2 separate regions of the Homo sapiens genome follow, and region 1 is linked to region 2. The links come from fine-mapping of genetic effects on gene expression. A gene starts in region 2. The other region holds a variant in brackets. All regions are shown on one strand. Distances are between the middles of the regions. Region 1 overlaps TTC39A (tetratricopeptide repeat domain 39A). Region 2 holds the start of TTC39A (tetratricopeptide repeat domain 39A).

The links. PIP is the estimated chance that this variant, and not a neighbour inherited with it, causes the effect.
Region 1: its variant is fine-mapped to the expression of TTC39A in lung (TOPMed, PIP 0.99). The same link has a PIP of 0.9 or more in nasal epithelium.

What each region holds. Positions count from the first base shown.
Region 1 is chr1:51,283,018-51,293,520 of GRCh38, forward strand. It overlaps TTC39A (tetratricopeptide repeat domain 39A), which reads right to left. Exons shown (of 18, transcript NM_001297663.2): 15 at 7,497-7,608; 16 at 6,988-7,102; 17 at 5,822-5,938; 18 at 4,241-5,263. The coding sequence ends at 5,140. Among named protein-coding and RNA genes, the nearest start is that of TTC39A-AS1, 41 kb to the right of the region's middle. The variant G/A (reference allele first, on the strand shown) is at 5,215.
Region 2 is chr1:51,325,147-51,335,649 of GRCh38, forward strand. TTC39A (tetratricopeptide repeat domain 39A) reads right to left here and starts at 5,416. Exons shown (of 18, transcript NM_001297663.2): 1 at 5,291-5,416. The coding sequence starts at 5,331. TTC39A-AS1 (TTC39A antisense RNA 1) reads left to right here and starts at 4,508. Exons shown (of 3, transcript NR_123731.1): 1 at 4,508-4,663; 2 at 4,984-5,067; 3 at 5,726-6,135. RefSeq lists a silencer at 5,389-5,458 and an enhancer at 6,276-6,325.

The sequences.
Region 1 (10,503 bases), 42 kb before region 2:
CTCTGGAGTAGTTGACTGGAACTCTACCTGAGTGGGGATTGGATCATGCCTTTTCCTCCATCATCCCTCGATGATTTTCTGAGCAAATACTGTTGTTTAAGGATTGCTTTTCTTTTGGCTTTTTGCAAGTTAGGCCCTCTCCCTACTTCATGATGCCAAGTGCCAAAGGGAGCCATGCCACAAAGACATGCTCCATGTGTTTGCAGCCAAGCATCTCCAGCGGTTGAGCTATTAGTCAGTACTTCTTCCATTTTCACAGTGGCCCAAGAGTCAGTATAAGCTGGGTCTAACTTTACACAGGATTTTACAGCTTGACCAACAGTGTAGCAAAGTACAGGCTTTAGAGTTCAGCAGCCTGTCTTCAAATCTTACTGCTGCATAATCGTTGTGTGATCTTAGGCAACTTATTTACCTGTGCCTCAGTTTTGCCATCTGCAAAATGACAATGGCCCCACTTCATAGGATTATGTAAATATTATGAGGATTAAATAAATGTAAAGTACTTAGAATAGCAACTGGCACATAATGAGTATTTAATAAATACTAGCTTTTATTCTTTTCCCCAGAGCATATTGGTGTCTGATGTTCTGGAGTGTTTAATGTGGAGGAAGAAAAACAAACCTGATCTAGTCATTTGTGAGACATTAGCTGTGATGTCTCTGATTAAACATCCACTTTTTTTTCTTTTTTAGACAGAGTCTCGCTCTGTCACCCAGGCTGGAGTGCAGAGGCGCGATCTCGGCTCACTGCAAGCTCCACCAACCGGGTTCAAGCAATTCTGCCTCAGCCTCCTGAGTAGCAGGGACTACAGGTGCCTGCCACCACGCCCACTTAATTTTTGTATTTGTAGTAGAGACCGAGTTTCACCATGTTGGCCAGGATGGTCTCAATCTCCTGACCTTGTGATCCACCTGCCTCGGCGTCCCAAAGTGCTGGGATTACAGGCGTGAACCACCACGCCCAGCCAAACATGAACTTTTAACAGTCCATAGAGACCTTCAATAGTTCATTCTATGTCTTCCCAAAGGGCTCTATTCTTATTTTGTCACTTAACAGTTGACTTTATACAGTGGAAGCAGTCATAGATTACTCATTTAGAGATGGAGTTTTCGAGTCCCCAAATGAGGTTTCTTGTTTGTGGACCTAGCCTATTAATCAGTAATGAACTTTGCACTGGAATTCAAAGGAGCCGTGCTAACCCGAGCAGAAGGCACTTTCCGACCTTGGAAGGCTGCATCTGAGGGTGGGCGTGAGAAGTTCCCATTTGCTGCTTGGATTGCAGAATCCAGACACCTCTCATTTATTACTGAATTAGTGTGATGATGCTGAGGATGTTGAGAAGGCACTGTTAGGCTTTAAATTTGAAGTAAACAAGGAAAAGACTGTTGACTCCCATCATCTTAGAAGAAATGATCTTGGGAGTAACTCCAGAGGAAAGGGTCTGGATTTGATTCCTTGAATGGTTCTAGTACTCAGCACACTGGGGCTTTCTTAAAACCTCTTGGTGCCATTCTTCACTTGGGAATCTCCCACCTGGACCTCAGCCAAATCTTGAGTTGGTGTTGGCCTTTTAGGATCCTGGCTTTGATGTCAGGTTGTGGCTTTCTGCTGTGAATGATAACTGTCTTGGAAACACTCCCATTCTGGCTCAAGAGATAAGGAATAGGGCAACCTGCCAACCCATGGGAGAGCTGAGGGCCCAGCACACTGCTAGAAGCCACTCTGCCATTCTGAGGGCCTGTGATCAGTGAGAGGCTGAGGTAGACTTTCTGTTGCCAAGGACCTGTTCAGATCATGTTACATCATTGCTACTTCCCTAACAACTGAATTCATCTTGGGGCACAGGATTTAGACTTTCTCTAAATGAGGATTACTTGCTCTCTGGGTGTTCTGGCTACTGTAGAGCCCCTAAGAAGTCTATTATTTCTGGTTGAATTGCTTAGGGACACAAGGCTTTGGCAGAAAGGTAGGGAAGTGTATCTGTTGCCTCATTTTGCAGATGAAAACCCATAAAGAAACTGTAGAAGGCAGGAAAGAGCCTTAATCTTGTCCAAATTGCTCATTTTTAGAGGATCTGTGACTTTCCCAAGGTTACTTTGAAAATCAGTAGCAAAGTCAGGACTGGAATTCAGGTCTCCTTATTTCCAGGCTCAAACCTTCCACCTGATCTGTGGCCTCTCCATGGCAGATGTGCTGGGAAGGTCTGCACTATTAGAGAAGCAGTGACCACAGATGACTCAAATAAGACATTGAGAGCCTATGACAGAATTTTCACTTTCTTGAAAACGCCCTTGCATAAGGATGTGGTGATGTTAGAAACCCAGTGTTTTCATTGTCCTTCACATATGTATGTATATGTATATATTTGATAGATTATCTCAGAATTTGCAGGTGGGGTACAGGAGGCAAAACCCACTGATTTATCTTATCAGGGCAGCAGAGGTAAAAGTGACATAGGATTAATTAACAAAGCCCAGGAGGAAATAAACAGCAAATGTTGACGAGGAAATCATCTTGACCAAATTTTAAAATGAAAGCACCCGTGGCCGGGCGTGGTGGCTCATGCCTGTAATCCCAGCACTTTGGAAGGCCAAGGCAGGTGGATCACGAGGTCAGGAGATCGAGACCATCCTGGCCAACATGGTGAAACCCCATCTCTACTAAAAATACAAAAATTAGCTGGGCATGGTGGCGCATGCCTGTAATCCCAGCTACTCAGGAGGCTGAGGCAGGAGAATTGCTTGAACCCGGGAGGCAGAGGTTGCAGTGAGCTGAGATCGCGCCACTGCACTCCAGCCTGGTGACATAGCGAGACTGTCTCAAAAAAAAAAAAAAAAAAAAAAGCACCCGAAATGAGTTTTTTTGTAAACTGCAATTTTCCAAAGTATGTGTTTGGTGTCCTGTGAGTAGTGCTGCTTTGATACAGCAGCAGGCAACATTCCAACATGTGGGGAAGCCATGGAGGCCTGTCCTCCTGCAGCCTGTCTCTACCCGCTCACCCTGTCCTGTCCAGGAGCCTAGAAACAGGTTGGTCTCCCAGCATCCAGGCTTTGGAGAAGAGATAGCTTGCAAAGGGATTACTCTCTATGGAGGACATTCTTTTGTTTCATTCTAATAATATGAGAGATTTTTTTTTCATAGCATTTCTACTCTGACAATACTCATTGGAAAAGATAATCTTGGGTGAGGGTTTTTTTGCTTTTTTTCCTAATAATATATTTTGCCTAAAACCCATTACTTCATTCGATGTCACCCATAGGAGGCTGGTCAACTGGATCTTTTTTTTTTTTTTTTGAGATGGAGTCTCCCTCTGTCGCCAGGCTGGAGTACAATGACACGATCTCAGCTCACTGCAACCTCTGCCTACTGGGTTCAAGCGATTCTCCTGCCCAAGTAGCTGGGACTACAGGCATGCGCCACCACGCCCAGCTAATTTTTTAATTTTTAGTAGAGACGAGGTTTCACCATATTGGTCAGGATGGTCTCGATCTCCTGACCTCATGATCCACCCACCTCAACCTCCCAAAGTGCTGGGATTACAGGCGTGAGCCATCGTGCCCGACCGACTGGATCTTTATATATTAACCCAGACCCTTGGCAGATACTCGTGTTTGTTAAATACAGCAATCCTAGAAGATTGGAAAGTTTAACTGGTTCTTCTCTCGTAGAAACTGCATTCATGCATTTGGGGAGTAACGTTTTCACAGATGAATATTTTTACTGTGTGCATGATTTTCCCTACGGGGAAATGGTTAGGTTGAAGTGTGCTGACATCAGAAAGTGAAGAGTAAAACCTGGTGTTGGTCATTGAACCTGAGTTCTCACTTTAACAATCCTAGAGGTTGCAAATTCAGATGCTTTTAGGGGCCAGAAAGGTAACAGAAGTGTTTAAAGTAGCCTGGACTTAGCTCTAGCTGATTGTTGCCTCATGGGAATGAGGCTCAATGTTGCCATTTTTGTTTGTTTGTTTTTAAATTACAGGCCAGGAACCAGATTCATCTGTAAAATCTCCCCATTTGTGAATGCTGGTAACTTATTCAAAAAGTTTAAAACATTGTGTGGTCTAAATAAAACATACATAGGCCGTGTGGCTTCTGATCAAGACTTTCTGCCTGGCCTAAGGATTCATGCAACACATATTTTATTGAAATACATGATGCACGATCCCTTAAGGGCATAAATTTTATCACTTAAATATCTCTTTTCTCTTAACTGAAGAATCTAACGCATACACAACAGGTCAAGAATAACAGTTTTAACAAAAATGCTGTCAGTAAGCAAATGTACCTTGGAGTGAAGTACAGAAGATTTTTATGTTTCATAAATTATTCCCAGTGGTTTCAGTTTGGCATACAGCAAAGATACAGACTGGATTCTGAGAACCTCCTCCTGCCCCCCAAATTTCCTGGCTTTGGCATAGAAAGGGCTACACAGCTCTTCCATCAAGCCCTGGCATTTTCTACTGGTAGAGATTGATTTTTCTACAGAAGAGCTCAGATTTTATCTCACTAAAAAGACGTGCTTGATTTTTAAATTGGAAATTTACAAAAGGAGTGAAATGAAGTGTGAGTAGTAAGGTAGTGGGTGTCTGTGTACATCCTCATGCCCAACCCCAGAAGCATTGAAGCCTGAGGCTTAGCCTCTCCCAGGCATTCCTCAGGTCCTCTGAAGGACCTTCCGTCACACAAGCTGAGAACTTGCTGAATTTGAAAAGCAATTTGCCCTTTGGCATCATCATATAAAGAGATTTACCTCCAGATGATAATAGGTGAAGACAAAGACTTACAGGTGGTTGATTGTTGTTGGTTTTTAAAGCCAACTGTGATCCCATCAATGTATTTCTAAGGAAAATGTAAACTGTTCATACATTCTCTTAAACATCACAGTGAAAAGCAAGTACCCGTATGTGTGATAGGGCAGGCAGAGGGCTCCACCTGCTCTGCCCTTGGCAAAGGCCCTTGGCTACACTGGTGAAAATGCCAGCTCGGCTTCTGCACGGATACACTATGTTGTGCCATCCAACTGGAGTGCCGGTGGACCCCAAAGGCAGGGCAGGGCAGGGGGAGGGGGTATTTTGAAATGTTTTCAGGAGCTCTGTCCAGCTGTCTCTGTCTTCCAGCCCGGAACTGCTGCACAAAGCTACAAGGACACTGATGAGACCATGGATCTGCTGCTGTTCTCTAGGGAAGACTTGGCTTGGAGTGTGGCTGCCTG[G/A]ATTCGAAAGTGTGTCCTTGACTCCATGGAGTAATTCTTGTAGTTTTGCCTGGAATTGAGCAGCGAATCAGACACATGAGGCTGCCTGCTCCCAGAGATGCTTTTCCTCCTGTTTGAGCTGTATGAGCCCCGCGAGCCAAGGAAGGATTGTAGAGAAATTAATGTGTCCAGAGAGAGTTGAGCCCTACCCAATGGGAGAGTTAACCAGAAGGGTTTGTGGCCCCTCATCCCTGGTATCATGGCCACTGGAACCACTCCTGGTCCTCCTGGGTTCCTAAGCTTGAAGGGGTGGTTTTAGGGAATAGACCCCTACCCTGGAAGGCAGGAGGCATGGGTCCTCACACAGCCATGCAGTTGGCTTCTGATGTGACCTTGGGAACTTACTTCCTGCCTCTGGGAGTCTAACTGCGCATTTATACATTAAGAAAGAAGTCTTCCTATGACAGGCGAGAGCTGGATTCCGAGGGACACAGGTCCACCCTCTAGACTGCCAGACTGGCCTTGCTAGCAACTCCACTCACTGCTCTCTGGGCAACTCTGTCCCCAGCCAGCTCCTGAGCTGAGTTCAGAGGGAGCAAAGGACAGACTGAGGTTACCCAAGCCTTACTTGGCAGATTCCAAAAGTTTGATGGCCTCTTCGTTTCTGTCTTGCTCCATAAGCAGCAGGGCCAGCTCCAGCAGGGCGTTTGGGATCAAGTAGTGGTCATATTTAATCTTCTTTTCACTGCAGAACAGAGGACATGGCTCAGGTTCCTCCTCCTGAGCCTCTCCCAAACTGCATGTGAGGATTTCCTAACCCGAACTCCAATTTTGGGAGGTTCCCACTACCCAGCCCTAGAAAGGCTGGGATCCATAGCAAAGCCTTCCCATCCTGTACCTTGGGCTCCAGCTCCCTGACAACCTATGGCTCCTGTCATGTCCTTAGTCCACCGCCACCTAAGTCCCGACCTCCCTTTCTCCAGGTTGAATGGTTTATTAAACTGTAAAGTCTCCTGTCTCTGATCTACCCTCTCTGACCCGACCTCCATGCTGTCCTGGAGATATCCTTTTAAACCCCAAGTCCTCCTTGCCCGGTACCCTTTCTGGCTGTCTTCTTTGGGATACAATTTAGCCTTGTGAACAAAACATCCAGGCCCTTCTCATTCTATCCCTCCTTTTTCATCTTCAATCTTTTCTCTCTATGACTTCACCCAGGCAGGTAAAGACCCCATCACCGTCACCCCAGCCTCAGATGTCTTTCCTGTGTCCATGCACTGGTGCATGCTGTACTTACTCCACTTCAAACCTGTCCTCCCTTGCTTTCTCTGCCTGATGAACTTCCCACTTTCAACATCAGCCTTGGAAAGCCTTTCCTGGTATCTCCCATTAAGTTTAGGTCCCTTCTTGGGGCACCTGCTGTCCTCTCCGCTTTCCTTTAGCATGGCCCTGACGAGCCTTGGTTGGGTTGCCTACAGCTTGCCATCTGTCACATTGCCCTCCCTGAGGGCAAGGATAGAGTCACCGAATTACAAACTCCAGGGGACACTGTTCACTCAAAACAACGTGGATGGACTCCTGTAGTCAGGCAATTTGGTGGCACTGGGAGGCTAGGTCTGAATTATCTGTACAGCTCCCGGCACAAGTCCTGGCACAGAGTGGACACTGGTTTAGTACCTGTGTGGTGAGTGGGGGTTGGCTAGGGTCAGCCACTGCAGTGGGCATGAGGATGGAGAAGCCCTGAATATTCTACCCAGGAGACTCAGACCCAGAAGGAGCAGCTGCAGAGGCACTTACTTGGCAGAGATGCTCCTAAAATTCTCCTCGGCCTCCTGGACACGGCCCAGGTATTTCAGACACAGGCCTTTCAACAATTTCACCAAGCACTCGTCATCCACTGAGTACTCGTTCTCTGAAAATAGGGATGTGAGGGAAAAAGACAGACTTGTTCATTTCTGCAGCAGTTACTTATGGAGCCCCCTACTTTGTGCTAGGTCAAAGGGACACAGGTAAATCAGACACAGTCCCTGTCCTCAGCAGGGGTCACATCTAAGAAGGAAAGGCAAATACTGAGACAATGACAATACAGTGAGGTCAGCACTGAAGGAAGCCCCAAGGCTGCGGGAGCCCAGAGGCTTTGACCCTACCAGGTGGACAAGGAACAGCTGCTTGGAGGAGCTCAGTCTAGAGAGATAAAGGAGAGTTGCCAGGGTAGGGAAAGGAGGAAGGACATTTTTGGCAGAGGGAAGCTTCAGCTGTAAAGACCTGACCTAGCATGGCAGGCCCAAGGGCCTGAGGGAAGTCACCTGGGCCTTTCTCCAGCATCTCTTCAGCCTTAGTGATAATCTCAAGTATCCCATCCGTGAGTTTCGGCTGCTTCCCAATCACGGCGTAGCCGTTCCAGATGTACATCATTTCCTGAAGGCAGGGGGGCAAGTCAGTCCTAGGTTTCTTCCCTAATGGGGCCTCAGTTTTCCCATCTACAAAATGGGCAGTTCAGATCAGAGGTTCACTAAAGGACCTTCTAGCTCTAATCATCCATGACAGGTCTCAGTCAGCCTGTGAAGCTGTGGGTCTGAGGGGGTTATGGGAGCCTTATCATTGATTTCCTCCTGAGATCTCACCTTACCCCAGTGAAGATGTAAGATGGACCAATGTCCGTAATGTGCTGCTCATAGCTGCCCAAGTTTTCCAGCTATTTTCCTGCTCATGCCCTCCCTGAGTGCTATTATGTCCTTTCTCCCAACCTCTCTGGGGCCAAACACTTTCTGTCCTTTGAGGACCAGGCCATGCTCCATACACACATTTCAGGACAACAGAATTTAAGGCTATGTCACCTTCTCTTCTACTCCTAGTCTCCCAAAGCAATGGGCTAAATAATGACATTCATATTCCATTTCCTTTAGAATGAAGTTACCATCATTGAGACTCTTAAAACACATCTGATTCCTTTTATTCTTTTTCTTAGATTCTTTTTTTTTAGTTAAAAAAATTTGGGGGGGGCCAGGCACAGCGGCTCACGCCTGTAATCCCAGCACTTTGGGAGGCCGAGATGAGTGGATCACCTGAGGTCAGGAGTTCGAGACTAGCCTGGCCAACATGGTGAAACCCCATCTCTACTAAAAATACAAAAATTAGCCGGGTGTGGTGGCACACACCTATAATTCCAGCTACTCGGGAGGCTGAGACAGGAGAATCACTTGAATCCAGGAAGCGGAAGTTGCAGTGAGCCGAGATGGCACCACTGCACTCCAGCCTGGGTGACAGAGACTCCGTCTCAAAAAAAAAGTCTTGGGGCCAGGTATGGTGGCTCACACCTGTAATCCCAGCACTTTGGAAGGCTTAGGCAGGTGGATCATAATCACTTGAGCTCAGGAGTTCAAGACCAGCCTGGGCAACATGGCGAAACCCCATCTCCACCAAAAAAAAAAAAAAAAAAAAAAAAAAAATTAGCCAGGCATGGTGGTGCAAGCCTGGGGTCCCAGCTACTTGGGAGGCTTAGGTGGGAGGATCGCTGGAGCCCAAGAAATCTAGGCTGCAGTGAGCTATGATCACCCCACTGCATTCCAGCCTGGGTGACAGAGTGAGATTCTATCTCAAAAAAAAAAAAAAAATTCTTTTCACCATGTCTTTGTCAGGCTATTGGTTCCTTTTGTTTGTTTGTTTTTGCCTCGACTGCCAGGAAGCTCAGAATACTAAATTAGGCTGAATGCAGTGGCTTACGCCTGTAATTCCAGCACTTTGGGAGGCTGAGGTTAGAGGATCTCTTGAGCCCTGGAGTTCAACACCAGCTTGGGCAACACAGTGAGATATCATCTCTACAAAAAAATAAAAATAGTAGCTGAGCATGGCGGTGCACACCTGTAGTCAGGAGGCTGAAGTGAGAGGATCCTTTGAGCCCAGGAGTTTGAGGCTGTGGTGAGCTGATATCACCACTACACTCCAGCCTGCATGACAGAGTGAGACCCCACCTCTAAAATAAATATTTAAAAATAAATAAAATAAAATAATAGTACTAAACTTTCATTCATAGTAACTGTGTTTGCTTAAATGAGCATTTCCTAAACTATCAAAGAAGATAATGGATGTGAAAACACTTTGTAGCCATAAAGTTCTAGAAAGACATTATTGTTGTGGTTCTTGTTATGTTCTAGGAAGGGAATTTCAGTTTAGACCAGTATTTCTCAACTGTTCTGTGGTCCCAAGTTAGCAAATGTTTCATTCTATTTTATTTTATTTTAGAGACAGGGTCTCACTCTGTCACCCAGGCTGGAGTGCAGTGGCACTATCACAGCTCACTGTAGCCTTGACCTCCTGGGCTCAAGCGATCCTCCCACCTCAGCCTCCCAAGAAACTGGGACTACAGATGCAGGACACCATGCCCCACTAAATTTTGAATTTTTTGTAAAGATGGGGTTTCACCATGTTGGCCAGGCTGGTCTTGAACTCCTGGTCTCAAACGATCCACCTACCCTGGCCTCCCAAAGTTCTGGGATTACAGGCATGAACCACCACACCCAGCCAGCAAATGTTTCATTTTTTAAAAAAGGATTCTCCCCTTCCCCCGAAATAAATAAAAATTAGAAATGATTCTGTGGCCAAATAAGTTAGAGAAAAAACATATCTTTAAACTTCTTCTTAGATTAATATATAAAGACTCCAAGAAAGCCTATAGTATATAAACTGTGTTTAGGCCAGTCTTTCCCAAATGTATTTAATCACATAAATCATTTAATGCATAAACAGTATTTTGCAGATTACAGTTTGGGAAATTCTCCCCTAAGTTTTTGGTATAGTTGCTGCCCTTGCCCTTCCTACAATATCCTCCTGCTCCACTTGATAGTAATAGCTTTACTGTATTTTTTTTTTTTTTTTTTGAGATGGAGTTTCACTCTTGTTGCCCAGGCTGGAGTGCAATGGCACGATCTCAGCTCACTGCAACCTCCACCTTTCAGATTCAAGAGATTCTCCTGCCTCAGCCTCCCGAGTAACTGGGATTACAGGCATGCGCCACCACGCCCGGCTAATTTTGTATTTTTAGTAGAGGTGGGGTTTCTCCATGTTGATCAGGCCAGTCTCTAACTCCTGACCTCAGGTGATCTGCCTGCCTTAGCCTCCCAAAGTGCTGGGATTACAGGCGTGAGCCACCATGCCTGGCCTATGGTATATTTTAAACCATAAAATATTTTAAAACTTTAGAAATATTCAGGTTGTAAGTGCTAAATCAAACTATATAAATATTGACCGTTTCAATTTATAAAGTGTTTAACACATTTTCCTCGTTGATACTCATAACTGCTCTGTAAAATGGGA
Region 2 (10,503 bases):
CGGAGGATGAGGCAAGAGAATCGCTTGAACATGGGAGGCAGAGGTTGTGGTGAGCAGAGATCGCACCATTACATTCCAGCTTGGGCAACAAGAGCAAAATTCCATCTCAAAAAAAAAAAAAAAACCACAAATGTCACTTCTGGACTTAAAATCTTTCCCTGGCTTCCCATTGCTCTTAGGGTAAAGGCCAAGTTCCTTTCCATGGCCTAAAAGGCCCCACCTGATGTGGTCCCTGCCCCTCTCTTCAGAGGCTGGGATGGTGTCTGTCTCTGCCCAGGGCATAGCCTAGTGACTGGTGTTCAAGCCATTCATCTCTGTTGGATGAATCAATGAGGCAGCAGTGAGCATCTACTGCCTGGGTGTTTAACTGGCATTCTCTCTGACTGCTCTCAAAATGCCCTGTGAAATGGGATTATTACCCCCCCACACCTATTGCAGATGGGGAAACTGAGGCACAGAGGACGGGTAACTTGGCTAAGGTCACACATCCAAGCTAAGGTCACACATCCAAGCATGCATTCTAACCCAAGTTTCTGCCTGAGCCAGTACCCATCAGCTCAGCCCCAGAAAGTCAAGCCCATTGTTGTGGTTTATGCCAACCTCTAAACAATTTCTGAGCCAAGAGCCTGCCTCCCATTTCTGCACACACCCCTCACCACCTCCATCCCCCACCGAGGAAAAGGTCCTGTCTACTTGGTCTACCTGGAGAGAAAGATCCAGGCCGGATGGACAGTCAGTGCAGACAGGCACAGTCCTTCCCTCGGCAGCCCCGGCACCTCTTCTGCTTAACTGGGATGAGGCTGTCTGCGGTAACCTCCCCCAGACTGGGGGCGAGCTGAGCCCTGGGCTGATTTCCTCCCTCCTTCCCTCCCACAAGCACCCGCGAATCTCGTGCTCTAGGCTATGCGTGGGACTGGGCTCTGGGGACACAGAGTGGACACAGACCTAGGCCTGCCTCTTCAGGAGCTCACAGCCTACAGGTGACAGATGCAGACAGGGCAGTGACCGCTACAGTGCTCAGGGCTGTGATCATGGGAATCACTGGGGGCCAAAGGGGCCCAGAAGACACCTCTAACTCAGCCTGGGGCACTGAGGAGGCTGGGCGGAAGGAGGATGGCATCATGGAAGGAGGATGGCATCAAGGAAAATGCCATCAAACTGAGAACAAGATGGAGAAAGAAGTCTAAGAAGGGGAAACAGCACACACACAGGGCTGGAGGCATGACACCACAGTTAGGAGGTACAAGCGTTCTGGAAGGGCTTGGAAGACAGAGGCTCTGCAAGGCCAGCTAAATGGAGGGGTGAGGCTGCGGTGGCTAGAGAGCTCAGGAAGGCTGGAGACATCCGCCCCATTTGACTTAATAATAGCATTAACAACCAACCACCCATCGCCACAAAGAGATTACCACTTCAACTTATTTAAATTGATGACTGCATTATTTCACTCAGTCCTGCCAGCAGGCACCCTTATCTGTCTTTGATAGATATGGCAGGGACAGGCAGTGAAGACAGGAACGCAGTCAGGCTCCTCTCAGGAGCCTGGGAGAAGACAAAAATGCATTCTGTGGAAGCAACAGCGCCAAACCTTTCCCCTCACCTGGCTGAGACTGAGGCCCCCATTTCTCCACAGGCTGCCCCTGCGTCTCCAAGACCTTTCTTTTCCAAGGACACCTTGCCTGGCCCAGGTGACATCTATTCCTGCGGTGATGGTGGCCTCTCCACTGTGTGTTGGGGAACAGAGGAGAGGGACGCGGAGAAGAGGTGCTGGGCTGGATGGAGCAGAGCTGGTGACCAATGCCAGGAGCTCTGGCACAGTGGTGGCGGCTCTCTCATTCAGATCCCACCCACACTTGAGGCCCAAACGAGAAGGGAGCTAGAGGGTGGGAGGGGGTGTCAGGTAGCCTGGAGCCGCCCCCACTCTCCCCTTCCCTCCCACTTCTCTACTAGAGTTGGCTTGGACTGCTGCTTCTGTGCCTCATGGGCAGATCTGGGTAGAGCTGGGAGACCCTCAGTTCCCACTGAGAACAGAAAATCCTCCTACCTCCATCCCAGTCAGGATGAGGTGGGTGTGGGGTGGGTGAGGCGGCGGAGCGGTCGCTCAGGAAGCCAACTGCAGTCAGAGCTGGATTTTAATCCCTGCTCCACCACTGAGGGGAACTTTGGCTCAACGAGTAAAATAATCTGCCCATGGGGATCTGTTGCTTTAGAAGTGATCTTTCTAAATTGCAAAAATGATTGTGACTCTCCTTCCAAAGAGTCCCCCTTAGCTGCACATAAATGTGTCACGGAGTGATGTAGCATGACCTAATGCAGTGTGGCCTGCAAGAGTTCTGAAAGCAGACAACCCTAGACTCAAGCTGCAGCTATTACTTGCTGGATAACCTTGGGAATGTTCCATACCCTCTATGAGCCTCCGTTTCCTCATCAAGGAGATGGGAATGACAGTACTTACCTCCCACGGTTTTTGTGAAGAATGACTAAGACTATGGAAAGCACAAGAGTACTCAGAAAATGTGAGTAATTATTATTTTTTTCTAAAATTATGTATTGCCATTTTTTTTTTTTTTTTTGAGAGAGGCTCTCTCTGTCGCCCAGGCTGGAGTGCAATGGCACTACCTGGGTTCACTGCAACCTCCGCCTCCCGGGTTCAAGAGATTCTCCTGCCTCAGCCTCCCGAGTAGCTGGGATTACAGGTGTGCACCACCATGCCAGGCTAATTTTTGTATTTTTAGTAGAGACAGGGTTTCACCATGTTGGCCAGGCTGATCTCAAACTCCTGATCTCAAGTCATCCACCTGCCTGGGCCTCCCAAAGTGCTGGGATTATAGGCGTGAGCAACTGCGTGCGGCTTTACCATCATTTCTTGATCAAGTAGCACTGACTTTATAATGAAACTAAATAACTTTAAAAGATTGAGTGGGCCAGGCGCAGTGGCTTACTCCTGTAATCCCAGCACTTCAGGAGGCCAAGGAAGGAGGATCGCTTGAACCCAGTAGTTTGAGACCAGTCTGGGCAACAAAGTGAGATCCTGTCTCTATTTTATTTTATTTTATTTTATTTAAGATCGAGTGCACATATCCAACAACCCAGCAATTCCACTACTAAGGGGGCACCCTCGTGAAACACATGTGCAAACACCATCATACAAGAATATTCACTGTCTGAATAGCAAGACACTGGGAACACTTCGACATCCATCAAGAAGGATAAACAAATGGAGGTGTCTACATAGGGTGGTATATCACACATCAGGGCAAGTGGGACAAGAGCTACAGGATCAAGGCTAAATCTGAGACCTGAAGTTGAGTGTGAAAACGCGAGCTGCAGCATGACACATGCTATAGGACTCCATTCACAGAAAACTTTGAAGAACAAACTACATATTTTTAAGACTTACACACACTGAGTAAAAGAATAAAAACAGAGAAATGATAAAACCTAAATTCAGGATGGCAAGTAATTCTGGAGAGGGAAGGAGGGAAGAGGTTTCCACAAGACTTTCAAGGGTCTCTACTATGGTTTATTTCTTAAAAAGAATATAAAATAAATGGGGCACAATGTTAATATCTGACAAAGTTGGGTGGCAAGGGTTTGTGAGTTCATTTTACTATTTGCTATATTTTTCTGAAGGCTTAAAATATTTCATAATTTTTAAAAAGGTAGAGATTTAAGGCTTGATTTGTTCACCAATGACCATCTGGGCCCAGAGCAGGCCTTGCTGAGTGTCTGTTGAGTGAGTGTCTCTGTAGTGAAGGTGAGAATGGTCCTGCTGCGTGCGGCCCTCCTCTGCTCAGACCCCACCAGGATGACACTAGCCAGGGTTGGGGACAGATGGACAGGTGGCTTCAAAGAAGAGTGGGCAGGCATGCAGAGAGGCAGGTACGGTTCTGCATAAGGAAGACCCACCAGCGTGAGAAGAGCAAGCTTGCTGTCCTGAGGCCTGCAGCAGGGCCAGAGGTGCCCGGGGTTGTAGAGGGCACTTAGGCAGGGATGTAAGCATATAAGGAAGTGGGATGAATGTGGTTTTCAGCCAGGGAGTCTAGACTTCTTTGATAGATACCTTGCTCCATGCCCGCCTTCTCTCCTGGAAACCACTTTTCTGGACCCAGCAGGGTGGTGGTGCTCAGTCAGGGCTGCACAGAAGGAACCTACCCAACCTCCAGCTTTACAAATACTTGAGCCCAGAACAGGAAAGGAACAGCCAGCCCCACTTCTGTGTTTTCCAAAGGAGGGACCAGAAGTCTAGGAAGGGTTAAGGACTTGGCCAAAGTCACACAACAAAAATGATGAAGCTGAAACTCACCAGGCAACCCTCTCCCAGGCCAGGGTGTCCCCCAGCAACCCAGCTTCCAAGCCCTGATAGAGCCACACACACGCAAGCCCTGTGGAGACTTCCAGCTGCCAGCTGGCACCAGCCTCGTCACCTCCCTGTTCATGTGTCAAGCCTCGGGCCCTTAGCAAATATTGTCACTGGTGGTGAGGCTCCAGGCAGGGTGAGCCCTCCTCCCAGCTCACCTGGGCCGGCTCTCTGCCCAGCAACCTCCCAGCAGTCAGGGCTCCTAGCAGCTGCCCCCTGCCCTGCCCACTGGGGCCCAGGAAAAGCAGAGAGTTGCTGAAGGTCTCCCGGCAGTAGCGGCTGTCACTGCTACGGGGGGTGATCTAGGTAGGGGTCCTATAGGGGTTTCTCAGTGGGATGTGGGTAGGGTTGGGCAGGAGAGCCACGTTGAAGGTGACAACACCCACTTTTTACTACCCAGGTTCCTGCTGCACCCAATGGGCCCGGCTGGCCCATACCTTAGCTGTTTAAGTTCCCCTAATGTCCCTGAAGATGATGGGGTGGGGGGATCTGACAACAGACAGAACTGAGTTCAAATCCCACCCGCAACTCTTACCTCCTGGGTGACCGATGACAAGTCACTTAAGTGCTGTGTCTCAGTTTCCTCATCTGTAATGGGGATGAGAGTAACAGGGCCCACCCCACAGGAGTGAACGCCACGAGGCAGGTGGGGAAGGCTGCTCTGAACGTGTCTGTGACTACAGCTCCGTGAGAAAGTTGGGACCCAGAAGGTGAGTGACCGACCCGGGGTCCCCGCGCCTCCGCCTCCTCACAGCCCCCTGCCCCCACTCCTGGCAGCGGCGGCGGCTGCCAGGGGCCGGGCGGGGTGGGGGCTGGAAGCCGCAGTGCGGCCCCAGGCCGGTGCGCGGGGGGAGGCCTGGCGCGGCGCCCGCCACCTGCCCGGGCCCCAGCCCGCGCCGCCCGCGCCCCCGGGCCTCCCAGCCGCGCACTTACCCCGCGGGCAGGGCTCCTGGGGCGCCGCCAGCCGAGGTCATCGCCGAGGGGCGCGGGCGGCGCTGCCCCAGCCGGACGCCAATCGCGGCCCAGGTGCTGCCGCCGCAACCCCGAGCCGGGCGCTGTGCGGTCGCGGACGCGGCGGCCGGGGAGGGGCGCGCCGGGGGCGGGGAAGGCGGCGGGGCCGGGCCGAGCCTCGGTCTCCCCACCCGCACCGTAGGGCCATGGCCGCCCGCGGCGACCCGCGCTCCCGCACCGCCGGGGGTTCTGGGCGGCCCCCACCCCCGCTCCGACAGGTGAGAGCCCGGCGCCCTCTGCGCAGACACCGCCCGGGCCGGGAGCTCGCTCCCTCCTCACACGTCCCCACCTATTTGGCGCTAGAAGTTCTTCTCCGGGACCTGAGGTCCACTTTACTGTCACTTCTCCTCCCCACAGCTTCCGCCCCGAAGCGGCCCCCACCTGAGCCGTCACCATCCTCCCGCATTAATGGGGGCATTCGTGCAGACAAAGACAGCCCCCAGAGTCAGGCCTGGATTTTAATCCCACCATCTCGCCCACTGAGTGACTGCAGGAGACCAGAAGGCGGGGAAAACACGGTTTAGCACTCACTGCTAGCTGGCAGTTCACACTGCCTTCTCAAATGATCCCCATAATTGCTATTTTACAGATGGGGAAACTGAGGCATGGGGTTCATTTGATTCACGCATGGTCACTCACCTAATAAGTGGCAAGCTAGGACTGGAATCCATCCCTCCTGAATCCAAAGCCAACACTCTGGCCCCTTTCCCCCTTGGCCCCCTCTCCCCTGCATTCCCAGTGCCTGTGTGGGGGTCACCCACAACGCTCCCCAAATGTCCACTGTGCACCGAGCCCTGAGGCGGTGTCTCCACCTGACCTGATCTTCTGGCACAGAAAGCCACTGGCCCATGAAGAGTTAACCAGTCACCATCTCCTGGCCCCAGATGCTGCTCTTAACCATGACTCATCAGAGCATGTGGCTGCCATTAGAGCTGTCCCTTCACAAAGGAGGGGACAGAAGTAAGGAAGGACTGTAGCTCCCCTGGAGCAACTATGACCTCCAGGACGTCAGAAGAGGAAGCAGAAGGGGACAGCCTGCAGAAGCAACCACGGTGGGAACAGGACTTGTACCAGATCCCAGGGGAGCCAGGCAGTTTGGGCTTGGTGGTAGCTGCTTAAAATCTAAGCAGGCTGCCTGGAAAGGCAGTGAAGTCCCATCCTGCCCATTTGTGAGCAGGGGCAGATGCTCACTTGCAAGAATCATCCCATCTCTAGGAGTCTCATATACAGGCACGAAAAAGATAATTAACTACTAGAAGTAAGCTATGATGACATCCACCAGCAACTATAAAGAATCCAGACAAGGGGAGAGACTGGGGAGCTTCCTGGAAGAGGTGGTGACAGAACTGAGCCTTGAAGTTTATATTATTTAAACAAACTGAAGTCATGGAGAGGGTGTACCAGATCGGGGAGCAGCATGGATGAAGGCATGGAAGTGGGAAAGGGTGAGGCTGGTGAGACCACAAGCAATACATGTAAAGAGGATGATGAGGCTGGGGCCCCTATCACATGTCATGCACTTTCAAATCTCTAGGCATTTAAACATGCTGTTCCCTCTGTGTGGAACACACCTTCCTCCCTTGTCACTTGTTAGTCATTCATGTAACCGGGGGTGGATCCAGAAGCTTACAATGGGGAGGCCGCTGTTCAAAAAAAGAATACAAATTTACCAATACAGGTTGAGCATTCCTAATTTGAAAATCCGAAATCCAGAATGCTCCAAAATTTGAAGCTTTTTTTATTTTCTCTTTTTTTTGAGACAAAGTCTCACTCTGTTACCCAGGCTGGAGTGCAGTGGCACAATCTCGTGATCTTGGCTCACCACAACCTCCGTCTCCTGGGTTCAAGTGATTCTCATCCCACAGCCTCCCGAGTAGCTGAGATTACAGGCATGTGCCACCATGCCCAGCTGATTTTTGTATTTTTAGTAGAGACAGGGTTTTGCCATGTTGGCCAGGCTGGTCTCAAACTCTGGACCTCAAGTGATCCGCCTACCTTGGCCTCCCACAGTGGGATTACAGGCGTAAGCCACCGCGCCCGGCCTGAAACTTGAAGCTTTTTGAGCACTGTAGTTGGAGACTGCAGGCCTGCCATGTTTGCTGTGCTGTTGTTACAGCGGACACAGGCATTCTACTGATGCTCACGTGCTGCTGAGTTACCCTGAACACTATTTTTTCACTGCATTAATGGTATGTTATATTTTTATTGTTAAGTACTTATGTGTGAATAAGGGTAAAAAAATGCTTATTGGGAGCACATAAATTCAGAGTCAAAAATGATGATGATGCCAAATAATCACAGATTGTCCACATGGATGGCTGAGAGAGTGACACTTCTTTCTGATGGTTCAGTGTACACAAACTTTGTTTCATGCACAAAATTATTAAAAATATTGTGTATAAAATTACCTTTAGGTGGCTGGGCATGGTGGCTCATGCCTGTAATCCCAGCACTTTGGGAGGCTGAGACAGGCAGATCACCTGAGGTCAAGAGTTCGAGACCAGCCTGACCAACATGGAGAAACCCCATCTCTACTAAAAATACAAAATTAGATAGGCATGGTGGCGCACGCCTGTAATCTCAGCTACTCGGGAGGCTGAGGCAGGAGAATCGCTTGAACCCGGAAGGCGAAGGTTGCAGTGAGCTGAGATCACATCATTGCACTCCAGCCTGGGTTAACAAGAGCAAAACTCCATCGCCCCCACCAAAAAAAAAAAAAAAAAAAAAATGACCATTAGGCTATGTGTATAAGTTGTATATGAAACACAAATGAATTTCATGTTTAGGCTTGGACCCCATCCCCAAGATAATTCATTATGCATATGCAAATATTCCAAAATCCATGAAAATCCAAAAATTGAAACACTTCTGGTCCAGAGCATTTTGGGTTAGGGATAGTCAGCCTGTATAAAATTGCCAGGGTTCTCCCAGAGCCTTGGCAGGGGCCAGGTAAGTGAAGAATCCTGAAGCTATAAGCTGTATTAGCTCCAGAGTAAACCTTTACTGTATTTGACCAACATTTGTTGACATTTTGCCATATGCCAAAACTCCTCCTAACCCTGCAGGTTTCAGTTCAGATGTCACCTCTTCCAGGAAGCCCTCCCTCCATAGATGGGTCAGGGGCTCCCTTTGCACCCACTGCCCTAACCCACTCTGACCTACCTTAATCACCCTGAGCTGTCACTGTCTGTGTGTGGTATGTGTGTTTGGGGTGGTGGGGAGCAGAGAGTGAGGTTTGTATGTGACTGTCTGCTTCTGGAGGCTAGGGCCTGGTCCAGTTCATCTCTGTGTCTCAGGGCCTGACATCAGGTACCTGACTAGTCACCAGACACTAATGCGGGGCCTAGCACTTTACAATTTCCCTCTGAGGTTATTATTATAACAATGGCTGACACACATCACAGGCTTTTTACATGCTACACATGATGTTCAGTGTATAACATGGATTATCTTATTTAATTTTCACTTTACCACCTCTCTGAGCCTCAGTTTCCTCATCAGTAAAATGGAAATAATATTGCCGACTTCCAAGGTTGCTCCGAGTATTAAGAATTCATATATAAGCTGAGCATGGTGGCTCACACCTGTAATCCCAGCACTTTAGGAGGCCAAAGCAGGTGGATTGCATGAGCCCAGGAGTTTGAGACCAGCCTGGGCAACATGGTGAGACCCTGTCTCTACAAAAAAAAAAAAAAAAAAAAAGGCCAGGCCAGTTGTGGTGGCTCATGCCTGTAATCCCAGCACTTTGGGAGGCTGAGGTGGGCGGATCACCTGAGGTCAGGAGTTCGAGACCAGCCTGACCAACACAGAGAAACCCTGTCTCCACTAAAAATACAAAATTAGCCAGGTGTGGTGGTGCATGCCTATAATTCCAGCTACATGGGAGGCTAAGGCAGAAGAATCGCTTGAACCCGGGAGGCGGAGGTTGCGGTGAACCAAGATCGCACTATTGCACGCCAGCCTGGGAAACAAGAGTGAAACTCCATCTAAAACAAAAAAAAGCCCGGCATGGGGTACGTAGTCCCAGCTACTCCAGAGTCTGAGGCAGGAGGATCAATGGAGCCCAGGAGGTTGAGGCTGCAGTGGGCCATGATGGTGCCACCGCACTCCAGCCTGGGTAACAGAGTGAGACCCTGTCTCAAAAAAAAAAAAAGAAAGAAAATAGCAGAGTGCTATATAAATGACCTAGTGATGGTTGTGGTGGACCACTAGACACTACTTTCCTCCCCATTTCACAGATGAAAAATGAGCTCAGTAAGGGAAGCAGAAGAGCCGCCTTTAGAGCTGGAACTCTCCCCACACCATCACAGCGAACAGTGATGCTAGAGCCAGTCACCTGGTGAGTCAGCGCATCAGAGTGGCCCACCCCTCAGGAGGGCCCCACCCAGGCCGTTCCTGGCCCCCAGGAGCTCTGGCCCAGCCCCAGCACAGGGGAGTCTGTGAGTCACCATCATCATTTCTGCCTCCCCAACTCAAGTGACCTTACTTGGATCACCTGTGTGTCCCCACCTTGAGGTGACAGCTGGGCCCTGGCGATGGGACAGCATCCTGAGTCCTGGATGCCTTCCTCCTGTCAGGAGACCTGTTTCCTGGTGCGTTACATCTGGGAGATGCCAGGCCTGCTTTCCTCCCTCATTTCCTCCCCAGCGTGCAAGAACAAATCACCAGTGTCACCACACCTCTCAATGGCCCTGAGAACTTCATGGACTGCTTTCACCTGTGCCATTGTCAACTTAAGAAGGCCCTTAATATGGCCGGGCGCGGTGGCTCATGCCTGTAATCCCAGCACTTTGGGAGGCTGAGGCGGGCAGATCACTTGAGATCAAGAGTTCAAGAACAGCCTGGCCAACGTGGTGAAACCCCACCTCTACTAAAAATACAAAAAAAAAAAAAAAAAATAGCTGGAGGTGATGGTGGACACCTGTAATCCCAGCTACTCAGGAGGCTGAGGCAGGAGAATCACTTGAACCCGGGAGGTGGAGCTTGCAGTGAGCCGAGATCACACCATTGCACTCCAGACTGGGCGACAGAGAGAAACTCTTGTCTCACAAAAAAAAAAAAAAAAAAGAGCCCTTAATAAATACCTATTAAGTGAGCCCTTAGAATGCCCTAGAAAGTTTGTAATAGCATTACCT